Linked DNA regions of Homo sapiens: all the other regions are linked to region 3. Evidence: fine-mapped expression QTL. A gene starts in region 3. Each other region holds a variant in brackets. All regions are shown on one strand. Distances are from middle to middle. Region 1 has its middle 24 kb from the start of ZCCHC4. Region 2 holds the start of SEPSECS (Sep (O-phosphoserine) tRNA:Sec (selenocysteine) tRNA synthase). Region 3 holds the start of PI4K2B (phosphatidylinositol 4-kinase type 2 beta).

Region 1 (8,183 bases), 54 kb after region 3:
GGTTGCATAGAATTCCACGGTATACATTTACCACATTTTCTTTATCCAGTCTATCATTGATGGACATTCGGGTTGACAATAATAATAATAATTCCATGTCTTTGTTATTGTGAATAGTGCTGCAATGAACATACATATGCATGTGTCTTCATAATAGAATGATTTGTATTCTGGCCGGGCGCGGTAGCTCACGCCTGTAATCCCAGCACTTTGGGAGGCCGAGGCGGGGGGATTGCGAGGTCAGGAGATGGAGACCATCCTGGCTAACAAGGTGAAACCCCTTCTCTACCAAAAAAAATACAAAAAATTAGCCGGGCTTGGTGGTGGGCGCCTGTAGTCCCAGCTACTAGGGAGGCTGAGGCAGAAGAACTGCTTGAACCCATGAGGTGGAGGTTGCAGTGAGCCGAGATCACGCCACTGCACTCCAGCCTGGGCGACAGAGCGAGACTCCATCTCAAAAAAAAAAAAAAAAGAATGATTTGTATTCCTTGGGTATATACCCGGCAATGGGATTTCTGGGTCAAATGGTATTTCTGGTTCTAGATCTTTGAGGAATCCCCACGCTGTTTTCCACAATGGTTGAACTAATTTACATTCCCACCAACAGTGTAAAAGTGTTCCTATTTCTCCACACCCTCACCAGTATCTGTTGTTTCTTGACTTTTTAATAATCACCATTCTGACTGGCATGAGATGTTATCTCATTGTAGTTTTTTGTGTGTGTGAGTGAAGGAGTCTCACTCTGTTGCCCAAGCTGGAATGCAGTGGTGTGATCTCCCCTCACTGCAATCTCTGCCTCCTGGGTTCAAGCGATTCTGCTGCCTTAGCTTCCCAAGTAGCTGGGACTATAGGTACACACCACCATGCCTGGCTAATTTTTGTATTTTTAGTAGAGACAGGTTTCAGCACGTTGGCCAGGCTGGTCTTGAACTCCTGACCTCAAGTGATCCACCTGCTTTGGCCTCCCAAAGTGCTGGGATTATACGCATGAGCCACTGTGCCCAGCCTCACTGTAGTTTTGATTTGCATTTATCTAATGGTCAGTGATGTTGAGCTTTTTTTCATGTTTGTTGGCTGCATAAATGTCTTCTTTTGAGAAGTGTCTGTTCATGTCCTTTGTCTACTTTTTAACAGGGTTGTTTGTTTTTTTCTTGTGTATTTGTTTAAGTTCTTTTAGACTATGGATATTAGACCTTTGTGTAGTTGCAAAAATTTTCTCCCATTCTGTAGGTTGTCTTTCTCACCAATAATAGTTTCTTTTGCTGTGCAGAAGCTCTTTAGTTTAATTAGATCCCATTTGTCAATTTTTGCTTTTGTTGCAATTGCTTTTGACCTTTTTGTAATGAAATCTTTGCCCATGCCTATGTCCTGAATGGGTATTGCCTAGATTTTCTTCTAGGGTTTTTACAGTTTGGGGTTTTACCTTTAAGTTTTTAATCCATCTTGAGTTAATTTTTATAGAAGGTGTAAGAAAGGGGTCCAGTTTCAATTTTCTGCATATGGCTAGCCAGTTCTCCCAGAACCATTGATTAAATAGGGAATTCTTTCCTTATTGCTTGTTTTTGCCAGGTTTGTTGAAGATCAGATGGTTGTAGATGTGCAGTCTTATTTCTGAGATCTCTATTCTGTTTCATTGCCCTATGTGTCTGTTTTTGTACCAGTACCATGCTGTTTTGGTTACTGTAGCCTTGTAGTAGAGTTTGAAGTTGGGTAATATGTATTGTTCTTTTTGCTTAAGATTGTTTTTGCTACACGGGCTTTTTTTGTTGTTGTTCTATATGAATTTCAAAGTAGTTTTTTCTAATTCTGTGAAGAAGGTCTGAGGTAGTTGAATGGGAATAGCATTGAATCTATGAATTAATTTGGGCAGTATGGCCATTTTCACAATATTGATTCTTCTTCTCCATTAACTTGGAATATTTCTCCATTTGTTTGTGTCCTCTCTGACTTCCTTGAGCAGTGGTTTGTTGTTCTCCTTGAAGAGGTCCTTCACTTCCCTGGTTAGCTGTATTCCTAGGTATTTTATTCTCTTTGTAGCAATTGTGAATGGGAGTTCATTCATGATTTGGCTCTCTGCTTGTCTATGGTTTTTGGACAGGAATGCTTGTGACTTTTGCATATTGATTTTGTATCCTGAGACTTTGCTGAAGTTATTTATCAGCTTAAGAAGCTTTTGGGCCAAGACAATGGGGTTTTCTAGGTATAGGATCATGTCATCTGCAAACAGAGGCAGTTTAACTTTCTCTCTTCCTATTTGAATCCTCTGTTTTTTCCTCTTGCCTGATCGCCCTGACCAGAAATTCCAATACTATGTTGAATAGGAGTGGTGAGAGAGAGCATCCTTGTCTTATGCCAGTTTTCAAGGGGAATGCTTCCAGCTTTTGCCCATTCAGTATGATATTGCTGTGGGTTTGTCATAAATGGCTCTTATTATCTTGAGGTGTGTTCCATCAATACCTAGTTTATTGAGAGTTTTTAACATGAAAGGATGCTGAATTTTACTGAAGGCCTTTTCTGCATCTATTGAGATAATCTTGTGGTTTTTGTTTTTAGTTCTGTTTATGTGATGAATTATGCTTATTGATTTGCATACATTGAACCAGCCTTGCATCCTGGGGATGAAGCTGACTTGATTGTGGTGGATAAGCTTTTTGATTTGCTGCTGGATTTAGTTTGCCAGTATTTTATTGATGATTTTTGCATTGATGTTCATCAGGAATATTGGCCTGAAGTTTCTTTTTTTGTTTTATCTCTGCCAGGTTTTGGTATCAGAATGATGCTGGCCTCATAAAATGAGTTAGGGAGGATAGTCTCCTTTTATAGTTTGGAATAATTTCAGAAGAAATGGTACCAGCTTCTCTTTATACTTCTGGTAGGATTCAGCTGTAAATCCATCTGGTCCTAGACTTTTTTTTGTTGGTTGGCTATTTCTTACTGCCTCAATTTCAGAACTTGTTACTGTTCTATTCAGGAATTCAACTTCTTTCTGATTCAGTCATGGGAGGGTGTATATATACAGGAATTTATCCATTTCTTCTAAATTTTCTAGTTTATTTGCATAGAGGTGTTTATAGTTTTCTCTAATGGTTGCTTGCATTTCTGTGGGATCAGTTATGATATCTACTTTATCATTTTTTTATTGTGTCTGTTTGATTCTCCTCTCTTTTCTTGTTTATTAGTCTAGCTAGTAGTCTATTTTATAAATTTTTTCAAAAAACCAGCTCCTGGATTAGTTGATTTTTTTTAAGGATTTTTCATGTCTCCATCTCCTTCAGTTCCAGTCTGATCTTGGTTATTTCTTGTCTTCTTCTAGCTTTAGGGTTTTTTTGCTCTTGGTTCTTTAGTTCTTTTAGTTGTGATGTTACAGTGTCAATTTGAGATCTTTCTAGCTTTTTGTTGTGGACATTTAGTGCTATACCTTTCCCTCTTAACACTGCTTTAGCTGCATCCCAGAGATTCTGGTACGTTGTCTTTTTGTTATCCTTGGTTTCAAAGAACTTCTTGATTTCTGCCTTAATTTCATTATTTACCCAGTAGACATTCAGGAGCAGGTTGTTTAGTTTCCATGTAGTTGTGTGGTTTTGGGTGAGTTTCTTAATCTTGAGTTCTAATTTGATTGTGCTATGGTCTGAGAGACTGTTATGATTTCAGTTCTTATGCATTTGCTGAGGAGTGTTTTACTTCCAATTATGTCATGGATTTGAGAGTAAGTGCCATGTGGCACTGAGAAGAATGTATATTCTGTTGTTTTGGGTGGAGAGTTCTGTAGATATCTATCAGGTCCACTTGATCTACAGCTGAGTCCAAGTCCTGAGTATCTTTGTTAATTTTCTGTCTCAATGATCTGTTTAATATTGACAGCGGGGTGTTAAATTCTCCCACTATTATTGTGTGGGAGTCTAAGTCTCTTGGTAGGTCTCTATGAACTTGTTTTATGAATCTGGGTACTCCTGTGTTGGGTGAATATATATTTAGGATAGTTAGCTCTTCTTGTTGAATTGAACCCTTTACCATTATGTAATGCCCTTCTTAATTTTTTTTTCTTTGTTAGTTTAAAGTCTGTTGTGTCAGAAACCAGGATTGCAATTCTTGCATTTTTCTGCTTTCCATTTGCTTCGTAAATTTTCCTTCATCTCTTTATTTTGAGCCTATGTGTGTCTTTGCACATGAGATGGGTCTCTTGAATACAGGACCTGATGGGTCTTGACTCTTTATTCAGCTTGACATTTTGTGTCTTTTAATTGGGGCATTTAGCCCATTTATATTTAAGGTTAATATTGTTATGTGTGAAGTTTATCCTGTCATCGTGATGCTAGCTGGCTATTTTGCATACTTGCTGATGTAGTTGCTTCATAGTGTCATTGGTTTTTGTACTTCAGTGTGTTTTTGTAGTGGCCATTAATGGTTTTTCCTTTCCATATTTAGTGCTTCCTTCAAGAGCTCTTGCAAGGCAGGCCTGGAGGTGATGAATTGCCTCAGGATTTGGTTGTCTGAAAAGGATTTTCTCTTTCACTTAGGAAGCTTAATTTGGGCAGACATGAAATTCTGGGTTGGAAATTCTTTCCTTTAAGAATGTGGAATATTGAGCCCCAATCTCTTCTGGCTTGTAGTGTTTCTGCTGAGAGGTCCACTGTTAGGTTGATGGCCTTCTTTCTGTAGGTGATCTGGCCTTTCTCTTTGGCTGCCCTTAACATTTTTTCCTTCATTTTGACCTTGGAGGTAAATAAATATGTGTCTTGGGGTTGATCTTCTCACGGGGTATATTACAGGAATTCTCTGGATTTCCTGAATTGGAACGTTGGCCC[G/A]TCTTGCTAGGTTGGGGAAGTTCTCCTGGATGATATCCTAAAGTATGTTTTCCAACTTGGTTCTCTTCTCCCTGTCTCTTTCAGGTACCCCAATCAGTTGTAGGTTTGGTCTTTTTCTATAATCCCATAGTTCTCAGAGATTTCGTTTGTTCCTTTTCATTCTTTTTTTTTTTTTTTCCTAATTTCATCTGCCTGTCTCATTTCAGCAAGATAGTCTTCAAGCTCTGAAATTCTTTCCTCCACTTGGTCTATTCGGCTATTGATATTTGTGGTTGCATTGTGAAGTTCTTGTGTTGTTTTTCAGCTCCATCAGGTTATTTATGCTCCTCTCTACACTGGTTATTCTGGTAACAACTCCTGTATTGTTTTATCATGTTCCTTAGCTTCTTTGCATTGAGTTAGAACATGTTCTTTTAGCTCAGTGAAGTTTGTTATTACCCACCTTCTGAAGCCTGCTTCTGTCAAATTCATCCATCTCAGCCTCTGCCCAAATCTGTGCCCTTGGTAGAAAGGTGTTGCAACCATTTGAAGGAGAAGAGGCACTCTGGCTTTTTCAGTTTTCAGCAATTTTTCGTTGATTCTCATCTTTGAGAGTTAATCTAGCTTCAATCTTTGAGGCTGCTGAACTTGGGATGGGGTTTTTGTGGGGACTTTTTTGTTGATGCTGTTGTTGTTGTTGTTTTCTGTTTGCTTGTTTCTCTTTTAACAGTCAGGCCCTTCTTCCATAGGGCTGCTGCGATTTGCTGGGGGTCCACTCCCAACCCTATTTTCCTGGGTCCCTCCTGGACCTGAAGGTGTCACCAGTGGAGGCTGCAGAAGAGCAAAGATGGCTGCCTGCTCCTTTCTCTGGGAGCTCTGTCCCAGAGGGGCACCAACTTAATACTAGCAGGAACGGTCTTGTATAAGGTGTCTGGCAACCTCTGTTGGGAGGTCTCACCTAATTAGGAGGCACAGGATCAGGGATCTGCTTAACGAAGCACTCTGGCTGCCCCTTAGCGGAGATGGTGCACTGTGCTGTGGGGAATCCCACTCATCTGGACTGCCTGGACTTCTCAGAGCCAGCTGGTGGAAAGACTAAGTCTGCTGATCCACAGAGACCGCGACCATCCCTCCCTACAGGGCTTCGTCCCAGGGAGATTAGAGTTTTGTCCATAAACCCCTGGCTGGAATTGCTGAAATTCCCGCAGGGAGGCCCCGCCTAGTGAGGAGGCAGTCTGGCCACAATCAGCCACAGCCACTGTGCTGCACTGTGGAAAATTCCTCCTGGATCCAAACTACAGACTAGAGCTGCAGTGATGACTGCTGCCCCTCCCCCGGGGAGCTCAGTTGTCTTAGGCCAAAGGCAGCTGCAGTGATAATGGCTCCCCGCCTCCCTGCACCCCGGAACTCAGTAGCTCAGTAGTCTTCAGCAGTCTCCAGCTGAGTGGCCACTGAGAATCTGCACAGCTCTGTGCTTGGGAACCAAGGTCCCAAGGCATGGGCTCACAAGAGGGACCTCCTGATCTGCGGGTTGCACAGATCCATAGAAAAAGTGTGGTTTCTCTGTGAGAAAATATTTGAAATGGTCCATTTTCAAGGCATGATAAATCTAAGTATGGCAGCCAGTCTGCAAATGTGACAAACCGCATGGCTCATGCGCCTAGAAGGTCACAATAAGAGAACAGAATGTAGAGGAGGGGTCAACCCACGAGAGAGAAGAAAGTTTCATTATTGCGAAATCAAAACTGAAGTGGAGAAGGGGACGGGGTATAACCTTATAAGAGGGATAATGAAACTTAGGCGACAACTGGGAAGATTGTAACCCCATAGTACTCAACCAATGAGGAACTGGGGGAGGGACTTGCGTGCTAGGAGATAAATTACCTGTTGTGACTGCCGTGGATGTGCCTGCTCACCAGACACCCAATCTTGCAAGACTGTTATTAAAAGTCTCACTTTTGCTGTTCTTCATGCCTCTAAGTCCATTCTTTGGGTTTAGACGGGTGGGAGCTCCCCTTACCCCGTGTGGCTCCCAGGTGGGCTGTCACCACCCTGCTTTTACCCGCTCTCCATGGGTCGCACCAACCTCCTAGCCAGTCCCAATGAAAGAACCTGGATACCTCAGTTGCCATTTTTGTTCTTCTCAGCGGCAGGCCCAGACTACAGCTGTTTCTAGTCAGCCATCTTGGCCCCTGGAGATATTTTTTATCTTGATCATGGTTCTGGTTTCACAAGTGAAGACATTCGTGAAAGACCATCAAATTGTACAGCTCGTTGTATGTGGATTATCCTTCATACAATAATAAAAAATGATTTACCATTTCAAATGGATCAGATTTGGGAAAAATTGGTACAGTCATTTCGTTGTTTTTTGTTGTTGTTTGTTTGTTTGTTTGTTTTTGTTTTTGTTTTTTTGAGGTAGAGTCTCAATTTGTCACCCAAGCTGGAGTGCAGTGGTGCAATCTCGGCTCACTGAAGCCTCGACCTCGCAGGTTCAAGTGATCCTCCTTCCTCAGCCCCCAAAGTAGCTAGGGCTAAAGGCACACACCAGTACACCTGGCTAAGTTTTATGTATTTTTAATAGAGACGGGGTTTCATCATGTTGCCCAGGCTGTTCTCAAACTCCTGAACTCAAATGATCTACCTACCTCAGCCTCATTCTGGAGAGCAATTATCTGGTAAAACTGAAGGTGCAAATACCTTGTGGTACTAATGCATGCAAGCAGACATATGCAAGGTTGTTCAATGCTGTGGTGTTTATAACACTGAAAAATTGAGAACAACCTAAAGATCTGACAGCAGGAAAATGGATAAGTAAATTGTGGTATGCTCATACTATGGAAGACTATAGAACAGTGAAAATAAATGAACTATAGCTACATGTATCAAATTGTGTACATAAACCTCAACACAGTGTTGAAGGAAAAATTTGCACAAGTATTTAACCGTATCCTTTTTGTAAATACAAAGCAGTACTATATGTTGCTTTTTGACATAGGCATATATGTAAGTATATGAATATGTGGACAGGAATGGTCTCCTTCTTCAGAATTGTGGTTACCTCTGGGCTAGGACAGTATGGAAGCAGACCCAAAGGGTACCAAAATATAAAGTTTTAAGTATAAAAGCATAAAATTTTATTTCTGGGCTATATGCAGTGGCTCATGCCTGTAATCCCAGCACTTTGGGAGGGAGGCGGGCAGATCTCTTGAGCCCAGGAGTTCAAGACCAGCCTGGACAACATGATGAAACCCCGTTTCTACCAAAAATACAAAAAATTAGCTGGGCATGGTGGCATGCACCTGTGGCCTGAGCTACTCAGGAGGCTGATATGGGAGAATCGTCTGAGCCTGGGAGGCAGAGGCAGAGGTTTCAGTGAGCTGTAATTGTGCCACTGAA
Region 2 (8,169 bases), 75 kb before region 3:
AGGACCATAAGTCTATTTAACACTTGGATATGACAAGAATGAATTCTGGAAAGTAAGGAAAACAAATGTTAAATAGATATCTATAGAAGTAATAACATAGACACTGATGACAAAAAGGATCACTTTAATCCAGTTCAGTTTCAATCCACAGAAAAATAAGTCCACTCATTCTCTGGTGATATTTCTGTTTTATTTTAAAGTTCATTTTATTTCAGAGATGGACATAAATAATAATACAATTCACTCAGTGAAACAAATCACAATCATCTACTTAATGTTTTACCTCTAAAGAAAAACATAATAAATTTCAGTAGCCTAAGGATCACTGATCCATCTCATAGCCTACAAAAGCCTCCTATGAAAACAAAATGTATACTGTAAATTTTGCATAAAAATTGTTTTCACATTTTCAATTAAAACAGTACACTTAACTAGTATATACGCAAAGGTCCCCCAACAAATAATAATTATGGAACCATAGATATTTAGGTATCCATAAACTTAAAAGTTGCATAAAGTAATACAAACATTAAATTTTGTTACATATATTTTACAATTTTTTCTTTTAAAAAAGCAATAGGGAAGAGAGTTAGTTTATTTTTCATTTATCTATCTTTATATAAGAAATCTGAATTTCATAATTATGATGTTTAAAACATTATGTATGACACTTCTCTTACCTGCAGTGATCATGGATTTAAAGCAGGACTTCTGGTCTATTCGTGGCCATATAATATACTTTGCCTTTGGTCTTTTGTGTCGTAATGTTAAGAAACACAGAGTTAGACTCATACCAGTTGCCATAGGAACTACAAAGCAGTTGGCTACTGTATGGACACCTACAAATAAGAAGCAAAACAGAAATCTGTTATCCCGCTAAGCACCCAGCATCCTTCTTGAGGAAATAATATATTTCATATATAAAATAGTAAGAGTCGTAGCCCTAGGGCTTCTGTTTCTGTACTCGCTCTTGGAAAGCTCAATGCCAAATTCAACTTCAGGGCTTATGGCTCTGATTTTCTATCTTATTCTAAAGACTTTTTATTTAAAAAAAAAAAGTCTTTTCGGCCGGGCGCGGTGGCTCATGCCTGTAATCCCAGCATTTTGGGAGGCCAAGGCGGGCGGATCACGAGGTCAGGAGATCGAGACCATCCTGGCTAACACGGTGAGACCCCCGTCTCTACTAAAAATACAAAAAAAAATTAGCCAGGCGTGGCGGTGGGCACCTGTAGTCCCAGCTGCTCGGGAGGCTGAGGCAGGAGAATGGCGTGAACCCGGGAGACGGAGCTTGCAGTGAGCCGAGATCGCGCCACTGCATTCCAGCCTGGGCAACAGAGCTAGACTCCGTCTCAAAAAAAAAAAAAAAAAAAAAAAAAAAAGAAGTCTTTTCAAAAGCCACTCATACTCTTTTTGGAAAGGGGCAATAATAAATGAAATGAGTCAGTGGTGTGTGTGTGTGTCCAGACAGCCAAAAGCATTATGATTAAGACGGTACATACCAGCCAGCTTTATAATGTCCAGGACCAAAGAATTGGTAATTTTGTTCAAAAGGCTAGAGCCTGCAGCTTTTGGTTGCACAGCAGAAATATCACCGGATCGTCCAATGCCATGAATGAACCTAAGCAAAAAATGGGCCAAAAACTGGACAAATACATTCAGCATTCCGAGTAATACAATGTACAAATATGCAAATGTAATAACCAAAAAAACACCAGGAGCAATATTTGGCTGTTACAGATATATGTCACAAACTATTAATGATGTGGAACTCTCCTACTTAAATTGAAATAATTTCATCAATTATGCTGTGATAGCTAGTTTCCAAAGACGGCCACCATCAATTCTTTTTCTCCCTATGCCCACATGCTACTCCCACACCAAGAGATGGAGTCTACTTCCTCTCCACTTGAATCTGGGCTGAATTTAGTAACTTGCTTGGCCAGGAAGAATCTAGCAGAAGTAACTGTGTGAAATTTTCATGCTAGGCAAACCTTCAGATGACTAAACTCTCAGCCAGTATCTGACTGCAACTACATGACAGACCCAAAGCAATACTCACCCTGCTGAGCCCAGTTAATCCAAAAAGCTATGAGAGGTAACAATAAATGTTTTAAGCCACTTAATTTTAGGGTGGTTTGTTCTGTAGCAATAGAAAACTAGAATACATGAAATATTAAATTATCTTTTTTTTTTTTTTTTTCGTTTTGAGACGGAGTCTCGCTCTGTCGCCCAGGCTGGAGTGCAGTGGCGCGATCTCGGCTCATTGCAAGCTCCACCTCCCAGGTTCCCGCCATTCTCCTGCCTCAGCCTCCCGTGTAGCTGGGACTACAGGCGCCCGCCACCACGCCCGGCTAATTTTTTTGTATTTTTAGTAGAGACGGGGTTTCACCATGTTAGCCAGGATGGTGTGGATCTCCTGACCTCGTGATCCGCCCGCCTTGGCCTCCCAAAGTGCTGAGATTACCGGCGTGAGCCACCGTGCCCGGCCAAATTATCTTTTTTCTTTACTTTTCCCCTAATTCCACACTGGGCTAAGTTCCAATGATGGTTCAAATATTGCCTTAATTTTAAAAGAACTATATGCTCCTAGAAAATCAGTGTGCAAATCTCATTTTAAATTAGACAATATTATACATTGTTTAAAGATACCTCTCAATACTCTTTAAAATAAAAAACCCTTTCGTAATTTGAGTAATTTCTAATTGACAGTCAAATATATCAGAAATTCGGTATAGGAGGATTATCGAAGAATACTAGTGCTGTACTTCCTCACCACTGAAATCTCATGTACAAAACATTTCTTACATATATTATCAACCATGTTATCAGCAAACTGTTAACTGAAATTTTCATCCAAGTTAGGCATTATCATCAGTTTTGACTGCAGTGGTTTTTACTGAAATACAAATTCTACGATGCCCAGGAAATTTTCATTATAATGTAAAAGCATGGAAGACAGGAGTTTCATTTAAAAGAGTTTACACTTCACAGAAAGGTTAGTGGACAGAGCAATGAGTGATCATATTAACTACCAATTAACTACCAATTAAATCGTTATCAGAATTGATGAAAAGCTTTCTGCAATAATGCAAAAGAAAAAGGTCACTTAATAATCTAATACACCTTTCCCTGTATCTATTGCAACAGAGGTATTTATAAAATGAGATTCAGTTTAAACACAGTTTAAAACAAAATTTAAAGTTGATAACTATAAATCATTCAAAAAAAAAAAACACTACAAATGTTAGAAAAGAAATATGGAAAGCTATAAACAACCTTAATGGATTTTGAACTCTTACAACCAGATATGTTTATTAGGGTAACCGTTCCTAAGAAAACGTATAGCCTGTGTTAGTCACCCAGAACCTGACAGGGTAACCCCCACTTAGTTTTTACTCTATTGTCTTTGAAAAGCACCTGCTGAGATAAAATTGTTTCCATCTCCCTGTTGCATTTGGCTTACATATCCATTAGAGCAGGGAAGAAGTGGTTTACAAACTGACATTTGATAATCTAATAAGATAAATACTGCTGCCATTATTTTGAACCAAAAATAAATAAACGATGTATCTCCTGTACTACTTAAAAAAAGATACCTGTAATGACGACGAGCAACCAGTGCGGATGCCACTCTCCCTTCCCTTTCTCCCACACCACAATTGCCTAAGAAATTGTTGCTGTCCATGATTGCAAGTTCATGTAAAAAGAGTTCAAGTGTACTTTCATCCCAGCCATTCTCTGGACACTTGCCCT[T/TA]AAAAAAAAAAAAAAACTTATGATTATATTTAATAAAACTACCGTTCTCTAGAATACTACAGGAATACAGTTTTTCTTTTTAACGTGTATTTTGCCACGCTGCTTGTTTTCTAAAATTCAAGCATAAATTCACCACTGTATAGAGACCGCAAAGAGGCAAAACGTTTGTACATTTGATTACAATTATTTACAGATTTCGAGAAGTGATGATAAATGCATACAATGAGGTTTACTGAGATATTTAAATTTCCGTAAGTGAAACTAACTGAAAACCAATACAACACATCCCCAGTGAAGATGCTTCAAACCAGGGCGTTACGACTGGGGCGGTGGGACGTGGAGAAGGGCGGTAGTTGTCAAACTTCAGTGAAATTTTGGCCACGCGCTGTAGCTCACTCACGCCTGTAATCCGAGCACTTTGGAAGGCCAAGAATGGCCGATCACTTGAAGTCAGGAGTTTGAGATCAGCCTGGCCAACATGGTGAAACCCCATCTCTACTAAAAATACAAACATTAACCGGGTGTGGTGGCGGGCGCCTGTAGTCCCAGCTACTCGGGAGGCTGAGGCAGGCGAATGGCGTGAACCCGGGAGGCGGAGGCTGCAGTGAGCCGAGATCGTCACACTGCATTCCAGCCTGGGCGAAAGAGCGAGACTCTGTTTCAAAAAAACAAAACACAACAAAACTTTTAATGAAATTAAAATACATGAACGCTGGCAGGAGGGAGACCTGTGAAGTTCCGCGGAAAGCTCGTGGTTCGAGTTAGCATACAGTCTACAAACACCATTATGTGTTCTGAGTCGTTGAGGGTTGGTGAAAGATGGAGGTGCGAACTTTGCCCTTTCCGCGAATAAAAAAGTACACTGGGACTTTCCCTCACTTCCGCATCCCGAAGTTAGAAACAGCGGGACTCAAAACCCCGACCCCAACACCCCCTCCTAACAACACCATTTGGCTTTCACTGGCTTTGGCAAGGCTGAGAAGGCACAGACCGCAGTCGGTCAGCTAGGGCAAGCCAAGCTGAGACAGACTTGGGACTAGTCTCAAGCAGCGAAGAGCTGCCGGTGAGGCAGCACCAGCGGGGACGCCCGGCGGAGCCAGAGCCCCGGGGTCGCGGCGGCTGGGGAGGGGACCGACAGCTCGGTACCTTCTCCAGAAGCAGCCGTATGAGGTGCTCATGCGAGCGGCGGGCCTCACAGCCCTGCCGCACGTAAGCCGGCGACACCAGCCGCTCTCCCGCCGCGAAGCTCTCGCGGTTCATGACAGCGGTGGCGACAGTGGCGAATAAGCGGGAGCACTAGCTCCACACGCCAGACACACGACGGAACCAGAATGCAACTCGCCGCCTGGACGGTACGGCAGCGCCTTGGGACAAAAAACAAAACAAAACAAAACAAAACAAAAAAAACACTTCTCGTTCGTGCACATGCGCAGACCTTCTCAGATGGCGCTCCAGGAGGAAGTTGGCGTATTTGAGCATGCGCGAGGGAGTCCGCGCTTTTCGCTGACTTTTGGCAAAGGAAGGACTGAAATTAGCCCCGCCCCGCTGCGGCTGATTCGTCTAGTTAAACCCTGGTGTTCCTGACACAAACTTCAGGAAAGGATTTTGCACTTGTGCAGACCGGGCGAGCAGAGTAAGAAGCAGGTACGTGGGTTTTTCCAAGTTCTGTGTTTCAGTCCTGTTGGATGGTTGAGATCTGTGCAGGGTCTGTGCTTCCGCCTTATTCAAACTGTCAGATGCCAGAACCTTCGATCTTTACTTTGATACATTTCCACACTTATTACTGCCTCACAACCCCATAGGAAATAGCAGTGCCCCACTCATTTTCCCCTTGACACTACTGTTTAGCCATAGCACTTACTACTCACCACGTGACATGCCAGACGTTTGTTTATACACACACACACACACACCCATACCCATGAATGTAAACTCTCTAACCTAACGGCAGGACCTCGGTTTTTGCTGCGGTGCCCCCTTCCCCCGGGCACCTAAAACAGTGCCCAGAATAAAGTAGGGCCTAAAAAAAAAGTTGATATTGAATTAATGAATTAGTTTGACCATTCTGAAACTATCCCCAAGAACATTTTGTAAAATTGATTAAGGAGGGGAAAAAAATCCAACTAGGCTTACAGCTGCTGTTATTAAGCCAGCTTGCAGTGTGGCCGACTTTCTTGTAGCTGGTTGCTACTTACTACCCCAGGAGAATGTGGCCCTTGTCACAAGACTCTTCATTCTTTTTCTGCTCTGAAGATAAAATCTAAGACATTATGAGAAGATAAGCTTTCTGTTTGCATTGCTTCTTTAGGTCCCGCATACCAACAAAACTAAGGACGCCAACTTGTCTGGAAGGCCCAATAAAAAGCTGATTCATGGAGGAATGCAATTGTCACATCCTAATGATTTCATCTCCCTTACCCCAACGAATCGATAACCCCAAATTTTCCAGCCCCTCACCCTCCACAAATCCCCTTAAAAAACTTTGCCTAGAACCCCTTGATGAAATGGATTGAAGCTTGAGAACTCTTCCTGTTTCCTGGCTTGTAACTTGTGATTATTAAAACTTTCTCTGCTGCAAGCCTGCTGTCGGAATACTGGTCTGTTTCTGCACAGCCGGCATAGGAACCTGGCAGTGCTGTAACAGTTCAACAACTTAGAGGTTCACTGCTGGAGATCCCTGCCTCCAGTTTCCTTACAATCTTCATCTTATGTGAGCCTACAGTAATTCCTGACATTGCTTTCACCTGGTGGTTTGTCCATTTGCACTGAGTCACACCCACTTGCAAGAGCTGATTGTTAAATGTTCAGTAATTTTGTGAGCTAGTTTTCAAATACAGCCACTCAAAAATTATATTACAAGCAAAAGTAAAAATACTCAAAATTTGTCACTTCCTAATTATTTTACATTTTACTATTATCTATGCTCTTCAGGTTATTTACATGCATTTTATCTATATGGTGGAAATTCAATGTAATGTTATACTACTGCACATCTTCCAACTCCTCTTTTGATGATGTCACGTTGGCCATGGTGGGAGCATTTACACCATGGAAATCAGTAAACACCGCTAATCAGGCCCTTACACTCCAACCCACTCCCCTAGAAGTCAGTTGTTCAACATGTACCAGCTCATCACTGTTTCTACTGCATGTTCCCATGGCATCCAGCTATTAATATAAATCAGTCTATTTATGGTATTTGTTGAATTGCATTTCAATTGTTAATTTTCTGTCTCAACTAGACTGTGAACTCCTGGTTCACAAGGGCTATACCAATATCTGTGTTCAAAGCACAGCACTAAATACATAATAGCTGTTTGATAAATATTTGTTGAATGACATAGAGCATTTAACTACTTTAAACAGAAAGGTAAACCACAAAACAACAAGAATTTAGCATACTTTCTAAAATGAGTATTTTTCAAACTTTTGGAAAGTTGTGTTCCTATTCTCAAAATGCAACTATTTTTGCAACTTCTTCTTTGGAAAAGCCTTCAAAGCTGCTTTGTCAATCACATGCAAAATGTGCAAAAATCCCAAAATTAATGTCATTACTGAATGGACACGCCAGGTTTTTGAGCCAGCTTCTTCTCTTACCTTATTCACCACCTTACTTCAGAAAAATGTTTGTCTGTTTCCAAAAAGTTAGTCATTGTCAAGATATGCATTCATTAAAGGTATTCAAAAGATACCAGCTTTGGAAGCAATTTCAAGAGAAGTATTCTAAAATTACTTTCATCCATTCACTCACCCAACAAGTATTTATCCATATGCCCATTTTACAGATCAGGAAAGCAAAGCTCAAGAAGTTTGAGTAATGTATTTAAGGTTATACAATGAGTGACACTAGCAGAATTTAAACCTGTGTGTTCTGGACCTATTTTAAATGATGCTATCTATTAAAAATAGTATGTAATTATTATTTTAAAATAGTAGTTTGTAACTACTATTTTAAAATAGTATGTAATTACTATTTTTAATAATAGTATGTAATTACTATTTTTAATAGGGCAACATCAGAATAACCTCATGGTCTTTACAAGATGAAGCATCATTTAAAATAGGTCCAGAACACACAGGTTTAAATTCTGCTAGGGTCACTAGTTGTATAACCTTAAATACATTACTCAAACTTCCTGAGCTTTGCTTTATCTGTAAAATGGGGATATGGAAGAGGCAGTTATGATGATTAAATGAGAGGTAATTGCTCAATGACATCTTCCCCTAGATAGACTGACTATACAAATGGACAATGGCCAGATCATATGTGATAACAGAACTCTCACCCACAACCTCTCTAGCAACTAGACTTCCAAACCACCACCTCTGCAGCAATCAGCCAAGAATGGTTAAGACTTGGGCAATGACTGCCAGCTTCCCTCTTTTATTACTCGCTTCTAACTTAAGACCAACCAG
Region 3 (8,183 bases):
GAGCCATCACCCAACATTCCTGGTGGGTGGGAGAAGAGCCCTTTCCTGCCCTGCTCATGCTGTCTAATGGCCTGTGACAGCATGACTTTAGTAGGCTTTGGGAAATCAAGAGTTTTGAAGATTATTGGTAAAATAAAGACATTTGGTTGAAATTAGGTCAGACATTAGGTTTGCTAAATGCTTTAAGGTAATAAACTGCTTCTAAAAAAAAAAAGAATGACATTTCTCCAAATTTTGTGGAAAACATAAATCTACAGATTCAAGAAGTAAAGCAAAACCTAAGCAAGATATTTGTAAAGAAAATCATACCAAAAACATCATGGTCAAACTATTGAAAATCAAAGAACCAAAGAACCAGAGAAAATCTTAAAGGCAGCTAGAGAAAATGACATAGCACAAGTCGGGTGTGTAAGTGAAGGGTTATGATTCAAAAACAATGAAGGCAAGAGGACAATAGAATGACATATTTACAGTTGAACTTAGATGGGTAAGGATAGCAATATCAACCCAGAAGTCTGTATCCAGAGGACATAGCATTTGAAAATGATGGTAAAATAAAGACAATTTCTAATAAATTAAAACTTAAATTTATCACCAGTGTATTAGTCTGTTTTCATGCTGCAGATGAGGACATACCTGAGACTGGGCAATTTACAAAAGAAAGAGGTTTACTGGACTTACAATTTCACATGGCTGGGGAGGCCTTGCAATTATGGGGGAAGGCAAAGAGGAGAAAGTCACATCTAACGTGGATGGGAGCGGGCAAGGAGAGCTTGGGCAGGGAAACTCCTGTTTTTCAAACCATCAGATCTCATGAGACTCACTTACCATCATGAAAACAGTATTGGAAAGATCTGCCCCCATGACTCAATCACCTCCCACCTCCCACCTCCCACAACACGTGGGAATTGAAGATGAGATTTGGTGGAGACACAGCCAAGCCATATTAATCAGCAAATCTGCATTATAAAATTTGTTTTTAATTCTTCAGAGGAAAGGGAAATGATACTAGATAGAAACTCTGATCTACAAAAAGGAAGGAAGAACACCGGAAGTTGTAACTATGTGGGTAATTTCTCTAAAAAAGCAATTAAGGCAAAAATTATTCACTGTATTTAAATATTTAGGTCTAGTATACATGACAGCAATAACATAAACGATGGGGCATAAATGGAATGACACTAAGTTCTTACCTCTTATGTCAAATAGTACAATATTGGCTCTTAGTACACTGAGATAATTTAAGGATGAGTATTGAAAACCCTAGTGTAAGCACTAAAAATTAATGTAAAGAAGTATAACAGAGGCCAGGCGTGGTGGCTCATGCCTGTAATCCTAGCACTTTGGGAGGCTCAGGTGGGTGGATCACAAGGTCAGGAGATCAAGAACATCTTGGCCAACATGGTGAAACCTCGTCTCTACTAAAAATACAAAAATTAGCTGGGCATGGTGGCATGTGCCTGTAGTCCCAGTTACTCAGAAGGCTGAGGCAGGAGAATAGCTTGAACCCAGGAGACAGAGGTTGCAGTGAGCCAAGATTGCACCACTGCACTCCTACCTGGGCAGCAAGAGTGAAACTCCATCTCAAAAAAAGAAAAAAAATAAGTATAACAGAAAGTCAATGGTGGAATGAAAATGAAATAATCAGAATTATTGAATTAATCCAAACGAAGGCAGGAAAGGAGGAACAGAGGAACCGAAAAGGTTAAAGCAAATAAAACCCAAATTGCAAAATAATAGATCTAAATCCAACCACATCATTATTACATTAAATGTAAATGGACCCCAAACTCCAATTAAAAGGCATTTACAGGCCAGGTGCAGTACCTCACACCTGTAATCCCAGCACTTTGGGAGGCCGAGGCGGGTGGATCATCTGAGGTCAGGAGTTCGAGACCAGCCTGGCCAATGTGGTGAAACCCTATCTCTACTAAAAAATACAAAAATTAGCCGTGCATGGTGGCAGGCACCTGTAATTACAGCTATTCTTTCTTTAAAGCGGAGAAGGCATCAGGGAAGAGGGTTGTAGGTGGTGAAGCAAATGGTTACATTTTTGCTAGACTTTAGGTAGTGCCCAGTAACTCTATGCTATGCATAAGATAAGGTGAATATTCAAAGAAAATGGAGTAAAGGAAGTTAATTATACAGATATCTCAGGTGAAGGAATGATTGATCTTATCCTTGTTCTGCATCTGGGAAGATAAGCTTGTAACTGAATTTATCCATGTGAAATTTAACAGACTTTAGTTGTACCAGTTTGATTTAGGTTGCAGACTTAAAGTTATACAATTGACACGTCCTTGTTTTATGGAAGGATATACATCTTGAAAGGTTTAAGGGCCAGTAAAGAATTTACTATGATTAATTTGTTGAGGACAGTCATCCTGAGACTGAGATGCATAAGGCTTTTTTTTGCATTTTGAGGAGGGTCTGGCTAACATATAAAGTTTTAATACAACTATGGGAAGTAACAGCTATCCATTTGGGAAAAGCATTGTAGTGTTGAGTGACTTCAGTCTCCAGGCTTAACTCTCCCTTTGACATAACAAGTTGGGGGTGGGGGGTGGTTCTGAGATTTTTATTTTCCTTTACAGGGTCAAAGAGGAAATCATAAAGGAAATTAAAAACTATTTTCAGCTGAAGGAAAACAAAAGCACAGTAGCAGGCCAGGCAAGGTGGCTTATGCTTGTAATCCCAGAATTTTGGGATGCTGAAGCAGGACGACTGCTTGAGACCAGGAGCTCAAGACCAATCTGGGCAACAGTGAGATCCCATCTCTACAAAAAATTTAAATTTAAAAATTAACAGGATGTGGTCGTGCACACCTGCAGTTCCAGCTACTGTGTCTTCTACAGTTTAAAGCTGAGAAGATCCCTTGAGCTTAGGAGGTTGAGACTGCAGTGAGCTATGATTGTGTCACTGCACTCCAGCCTGGATAACAAAGTGAGACCCTGTCTCAAAAATAACAACCACCAAGAAAAAAAAAAAGGAGAATTCAGCTAAAGCAGTGCTTAGAGGGCAATTTATAGCCTTAAAATACTAGCATTGGAAAAGCAGAAAGATCCAGAATCAATCATCTTCTACTCTAAGCAACTAGAAAAAGAAGAGGAAATCAAAACTCAAGTGAGCAATAAAGAGCAAAATAAGGCAATGGACCAGAAAACAGAAAATCAATGGAACCAAAACATGACATTTTGAAAAGATTTAAAAATTGATAAACTTCTAGCTAGATTAGTCAGAAAAAGAAAACATACAAACTGCCACTATCAAGAATATCTGAACAAAGACAAGGTCCCTGCCCTCCTGGACGTCTACTGGAGGAAAGAAATGTCATACAATTAAATCTATAGTTACAGATTATGGTAAACTCTGAGAGAGAATTCTGTCAGGGAGAAGCCGCTTTTGGTTGCAGGAGGGCACCTCTTTGAAAATTACTCACCTTCCCGCCCTCCACTGGGAGTAAAGCGAGCTGTGCCCAGCTTCTCCCCGCGCTCACGGAAGCAGGTGGCGGCCCCACCCCACCTGACCCCTCAAAAGCCCCGCCCCCTGTTCACTCCCACGTGCCCCGCTGCCGCCGCCGCCGCCGCCACGACCCTTCTGCGCAGGCGCGGGGGTGGTGCCTGGCGGAGGCGCGAGGTGGGGCGCGGCCGGCGGCGAGGCGGGACAACCGCTGGGCGGGCGCCAAGCGTGCCCGTGCGCTGGTGAGGTGGCGTCCGTTCTACCCGGTCGCTCCCGTTCCGCGCCATGCAGAGCCCAGTCTCTGGCACCTGGCTGCTCTGATCTGGTCTCAGCGCGGAGGGAGCAGAGGGAGTCCATGGAGGATCCCTCCGAGCCCGACCGGTTGGCGTCCGCGGACGGCGGGAGCCCGGAGGAGGAGGAGGATGGGGAGCGGGAGCCGCTGCTACCGCGGATCGCCTGGGCCCACCCGCGGAGAGGCGCCCCAGGCAGCGCCGTGAGGCTGCTGGACGCTGCCGGGGAGGAGGGCGAGGCCGGCGACGAGGAGCTGCCCCTCCCGCCCGGGGACGTGGGGGTCTCCCGGAGTTCGTCCGCCGAGCTGGACCGGAGCCGCCCCGCGGTTTCAGGTGCGACCCGGCCCTGCCCCACTCCCCGCGCCCCTCCGGGCGGCTGCCCCTGTCGCCCGGCTCGGTCCTGTCTCCCGCGCGCGCTGGCCGAGGTGGACGGGCTTTCCCCGCTCGCTGGGCAGCAGCTCCCGAGCTCGGACCGGCGCCAGCCGCAGCCGCACCGCGGGCACCTAGCTTGCTCGCTCTTTCTCCGGGAGCTCCCTCTCCTAAGGCCAGTGGTTGTCATTAAACCGATTCTTTAGACCTCCCCGCAAAGTGAGTCAAAACTTCTAGAAACCGACACTGGGGAGAGGTTAACGCTGTAAAATGACGTAAGTCCTTGCTCAAGTTTGGACTTGACTTTTGAATTAAGAACCTTGAACTCTCAGGAAAGTTCCCGGAGTGGTGAATTTGCAAAGTGGATGACAGGAGAGAGATGGACAGCCAGAATATCCAGTTGCCACTGGGGCACGTTTCAAAACCTTTTTCTATTAAATGTTGTTATTATGAAGTTAGCCACAGGGGGCAAAAGCAGTTGAAAGTCTGTTCCTGCCCTCTTACAGTTTAGTTTCTCTTTCTTGATTTACTTCTAATACATAAGAAAACCAAAACGAAAAACCTCTTTTCGCTATTAAGCGGACTGATAACCTCAGGCGAAACAGGGCAGTTGAAATGATGTTGAAGGTTAAATTTAGGTATGCTGTGCAGGCCTGGATATTTATTAATAAAGTGAGTTTTTCTGGCGTGTTGAATGGAGTTAGACAAATGTGATGGAAATAGCAAGAGACTTGTAAGACTCTCAGCTAGAGGTGAGACAGACTTGTTTGTAAAAAGGCGATGGTACACCTCCCTGCTGGTTGTGAGGATGGATTAAATGAGATGTTGTGCACCCGGTTGGTTTATCGCTTCACACATGACAACTTAAAAACCACAGAAAATGGAAGTTTCTTTAACACTGCTTAGTTTTTTTTGGAATTGTTAGATTTTAAATGTACTGTTAGTGGTACACTAATGTGTCCTTTACAGTTTAAAGAATTTTGGATAGAATCGGTCACTCAAGTTCTAGCTAGAGGCTACATTCAGGCATATTCTAGAGTAAATAAATCAGAGAATCCCAAGGGGAGCAGTTTGTCTGATTGTTTAAGCTTTAACCAACGTCTGCTCCCGTTATAATGTTACCTGATGGATGCATTGACGTTTAACCAAACAACGTGAAGCTGAAACCAGATCACAAACGGGTCTGCATTTGCCTAGCTACATTGGCAATTTGGGTATATGTTACTTAGAATTTAGTCTGTAAAATAGCTAGCTTGCCTTTTTCTGTCCCTTACCTTGTGTAAGCTACCTTGTGTACCTGGGTTTTTAAAAGAGCCTAAAGCCTTCAAAATGCACTTGTTCTGTGAAAGTGAGGTGTTTTATAAACAAACAGTATTAAGGCTAGAAAAAAATCAAAGCGAGAGGTCAACGAGATGGCAGGCCTGTAATCCCATCCCAGCATTTTGGGAGGTCTAGGCAGGAGAATAGCTTGAGGCTGGAAGTTCGAGACCCACCTGGGCAACATAGCGAGATCCCCATCTCTATAAAAAATAAACAACAACAACAACAAAAATTCAAAGTGAGGATAGAGTATAGTGTTAGAATACAAATGGATTCTTAGAATTCCTACCTTTTTTAAAGGTAATATCTTACCTGTATCACAGTTTACAATTTGCTAAGATCTTTTTTAAAAAAATATTTTATTCTCCACTGCACTCCAGCCTGGTTCTGTCTTGAGACAGAGCAAGACTCTGTCTCAAAAATAAATAAATAAATAAATAAATAAATAAATAAATAAATAAATAAATAAATTTTATTCTCTGTTGGGTGCCATGGCTCATGCCTGTAATCCCAGCATTTTGGAAGGCCTAGGTGGGTGGATCATTTGAGGTCAGGAGTTTTCAGACCAGCCTGGCCAACATGGTGAAACCCTGCCTCTACTAAAAATAGAAAAATTAGCCAGGCATGGTGGCGGGCGCCTGCAATTCCAGCTACTTGGGAGGCTGAGGCAGGAGAATCGCTTCTGAACCCGAGAGGTGTAGGTTGCAGTGAGCAGAGATGGCTCCACTGCACTCCAGCCTGGGTGACAGAGTGAGACTTTGTCTCAAAAAAAAAATTAATTATTTTCACAACAGCACAGCAAGTTAGTTGTTATTCGCCATTATTCTCATTATGAGGATTCAGAATTAATAAACTGGTAATGACTGGTAGCTCAGGTCTTCAGAGGTAAATGGTTTGCCCGAAGTCAAATATCCAGGAAGTAATAAATCAGGAGGAAGCCTGGTTCTTTCTTCATCTTCTGCCCCTTTTCCGTTTTGCCATGGGTCCACAAGTGTTATAAAATAATTGTGTCTGTGGTTATTTTGGAGGTTTTTACCTTTAATAGGACTTTAAAATAGTTTCTGTGAAAACTGTTTAAAAAATTTTTAAAGACTAAAATGTTCATGATTGAGTAATTTAATACTTTTTAAGTTTAGTTATTTTTTAAATGACTCCATTAACTTCATTTGTCCTTTACCATCCGATTTCCATGAAACTACCTCACTAGTTCCAAGAAATTCTTGCCTTTAGATTAATATGAACATCATTTATGATGCTTAACTCTTACTTATATAAGCAAGAGGTTTATGTACTTTAGCCAGTGGAAGAATGTCATATGTCTGTTATCTTCAACAAGGCATTTAACAAAGCCTACAAACAGCATAAACCATAGTGTTGTTGGATCAGTGTCAAAGTGGAAGGATTAGTGCATTCCTTGTTCTAGTTATTTTAATCAGTGAATTCGGTAGTAATGACAGCTAATGCCTACATAGCAGTTAATATGCGCTAGGCATAGTTCTGTATGCTTCATATATATTAATTCATAACCAACCCTGTGATGTGAGTACTATTTTTGTTTTTTTTTTTTGTTTTTGGCAGTGGGTGGCTGTAGGGGTGGCAGTGGGGGAACAGAGTTTCATTCCTGTCACCCAGGCTGGATTGTAATGGCGTAATCTCGGCTAACTGCAACCTCCACTCCCCAGGTTCAAGCGATTCTCCTGCCTCACCCTCCCAAGTAGCTGGGATTACAGGCACATGCCTGGCTAATTTTGTATTTTTAGTAGAAACGGGGTTTCACCATGTTGGTCAGGCTGGTCTCGAACTCCTGACCTCAGATGATCCTCCCGCCTCGGCTTCCCAGAGCACTGAGATTACAAGGCCACCATGCCTGGCCTTGTTCTCATTTTAAGAAAGTATAGGGAGAGGCTGGGCATGGTGGCTTACGCCTGTAATCCTAACACTTTGGGAGGCCTCTTTGGTGCACACCTGTAGTCCAAGCTACTCAGGAGACCGAGGCAGGAGGATTGCTTGAGTCCATGAGTTTCAGGTTACACTGAGTCCAGTGAGCTATAATTGCACCACTATACTCCAGCCTGGGTTACAGAAAAAGACCCTGTCTCAAAAGAAAAAAAGAAAAAGCACAAAGAAGTGAAGTGACTTCTCCAAGGTCCCAGTTAATACAAATCAGGAGCGCTTAGCTCCTGTTAGAGAGCCTAACAGTTAGAAAACAGTGTTAGAATTCACAAAGAGCTGCCAAAGTAAAAGAAAATGTGAATTTGTAAGTCATTTAATGATTCATGGTGGTTTATAAATATGTGAACAGAATAAGAAAATCATTTAAAAGGAAGAAAGATGAGAAGATGGAGCCTGGAGTAAGATTACACAAGATGTACCTCAGATGCTTGATGCAGGCAACCCACAGATTTGATTTTTGAAATTACTGAGCAGCTAACTTGAGAGAAACACAATCATGTGGTCTATACAGTTAAAATAAACTGGTTATTTGAACCAAAACAGAACAGACAAAGGGTAGCCTGTCACAGTCTCTTGGTGAATGCTGTATGCTGAACAATATCTGTGATTAAAGTGATTAATTTCATAAAGGTAGTTCTTATAACTTCCCTAAAGTCCATTTCAGCAGAAATGGTTTTAACTACTGGTGCTATTGTGTCCGGAATTGGTGGGTTCTTGGTCTCACTGACTTCAAGAATGAAGCCATGGACCCTCGCGGTTAGTGTTACAGTTCTTAAAGGCGGTGTGTTCGGA

Evidence for each region.
Region 1: its variant is fine-mapped to the expression of PI4K2B in whole blood (INTERVAL, PIP above 0.99).
Region 2: its variant is fine-mapped to the expression of PI4K2B in whole blood (INTERVAL, PIP above 0.99).

The regions. Positions count from the first base shown.
Region 1 is chr4:25,284,836-25,293,018 of GRCh38, forward strand. No RefSeq gene overlaps it. Among named protein-coding and RNA genes, the nearest start is that of ZCCHC4, 24 kb to the right of the region's middle. The variant G/A (reference allele first, on the strand shown) is at 4,806.
Region 2 is chr4:25,155,357-25,163,525 of GRCh38, forward strand. SEPSECS (Sep (O-phosphoserine) tRNA:Sec (selenocysteine) tRNA synthase) reads right to left here and starts at 5,093. Exons shown (of 11, transcript NM_016955.4): 1 at 4,900-5,093; 2 at 3,597-3,751; 3 at 1,500-1,618; 4 at 681-839. The coding sequence starts at 5,013. It overlaps SEPSECS-DT (SEPSECS divergent transcript), which reads left to right and starts at 5,316. Exons shown (of 2, transcript NR_037934.1): 1 at 5,316-5,397. RefSeq lists a silencer at 4,777-4,946 and an enhancer at 5,057-5,356. The variant T/TA (reference allele first, on the strand shown) is at 3,754.
Region 3 is chr4:25,230,350-25,238,532 of GRCh38, forward strand. It overlaps PI4K2B (phosphatidylinositol 4-kinase type 2 beta), which reads left to right and starts at 3,684. Exons shown (of 10, transcript NM_018323.4): 1 at 3,684-4,082. The coding sequence starts at 3,815. LOC105374535 (a long non-coding RNA gene) reads right to left here and starts at 3,516. Exons shown (of 4, transcript XR_925490.3): 1 at 3,440-3,516. RefSeq lists silencers at 3,474-3,783, 3,884-4,123, 4,164-4,223 and enhancers at 3,510-4,011, 4,012-4,511, 4,444-4,573.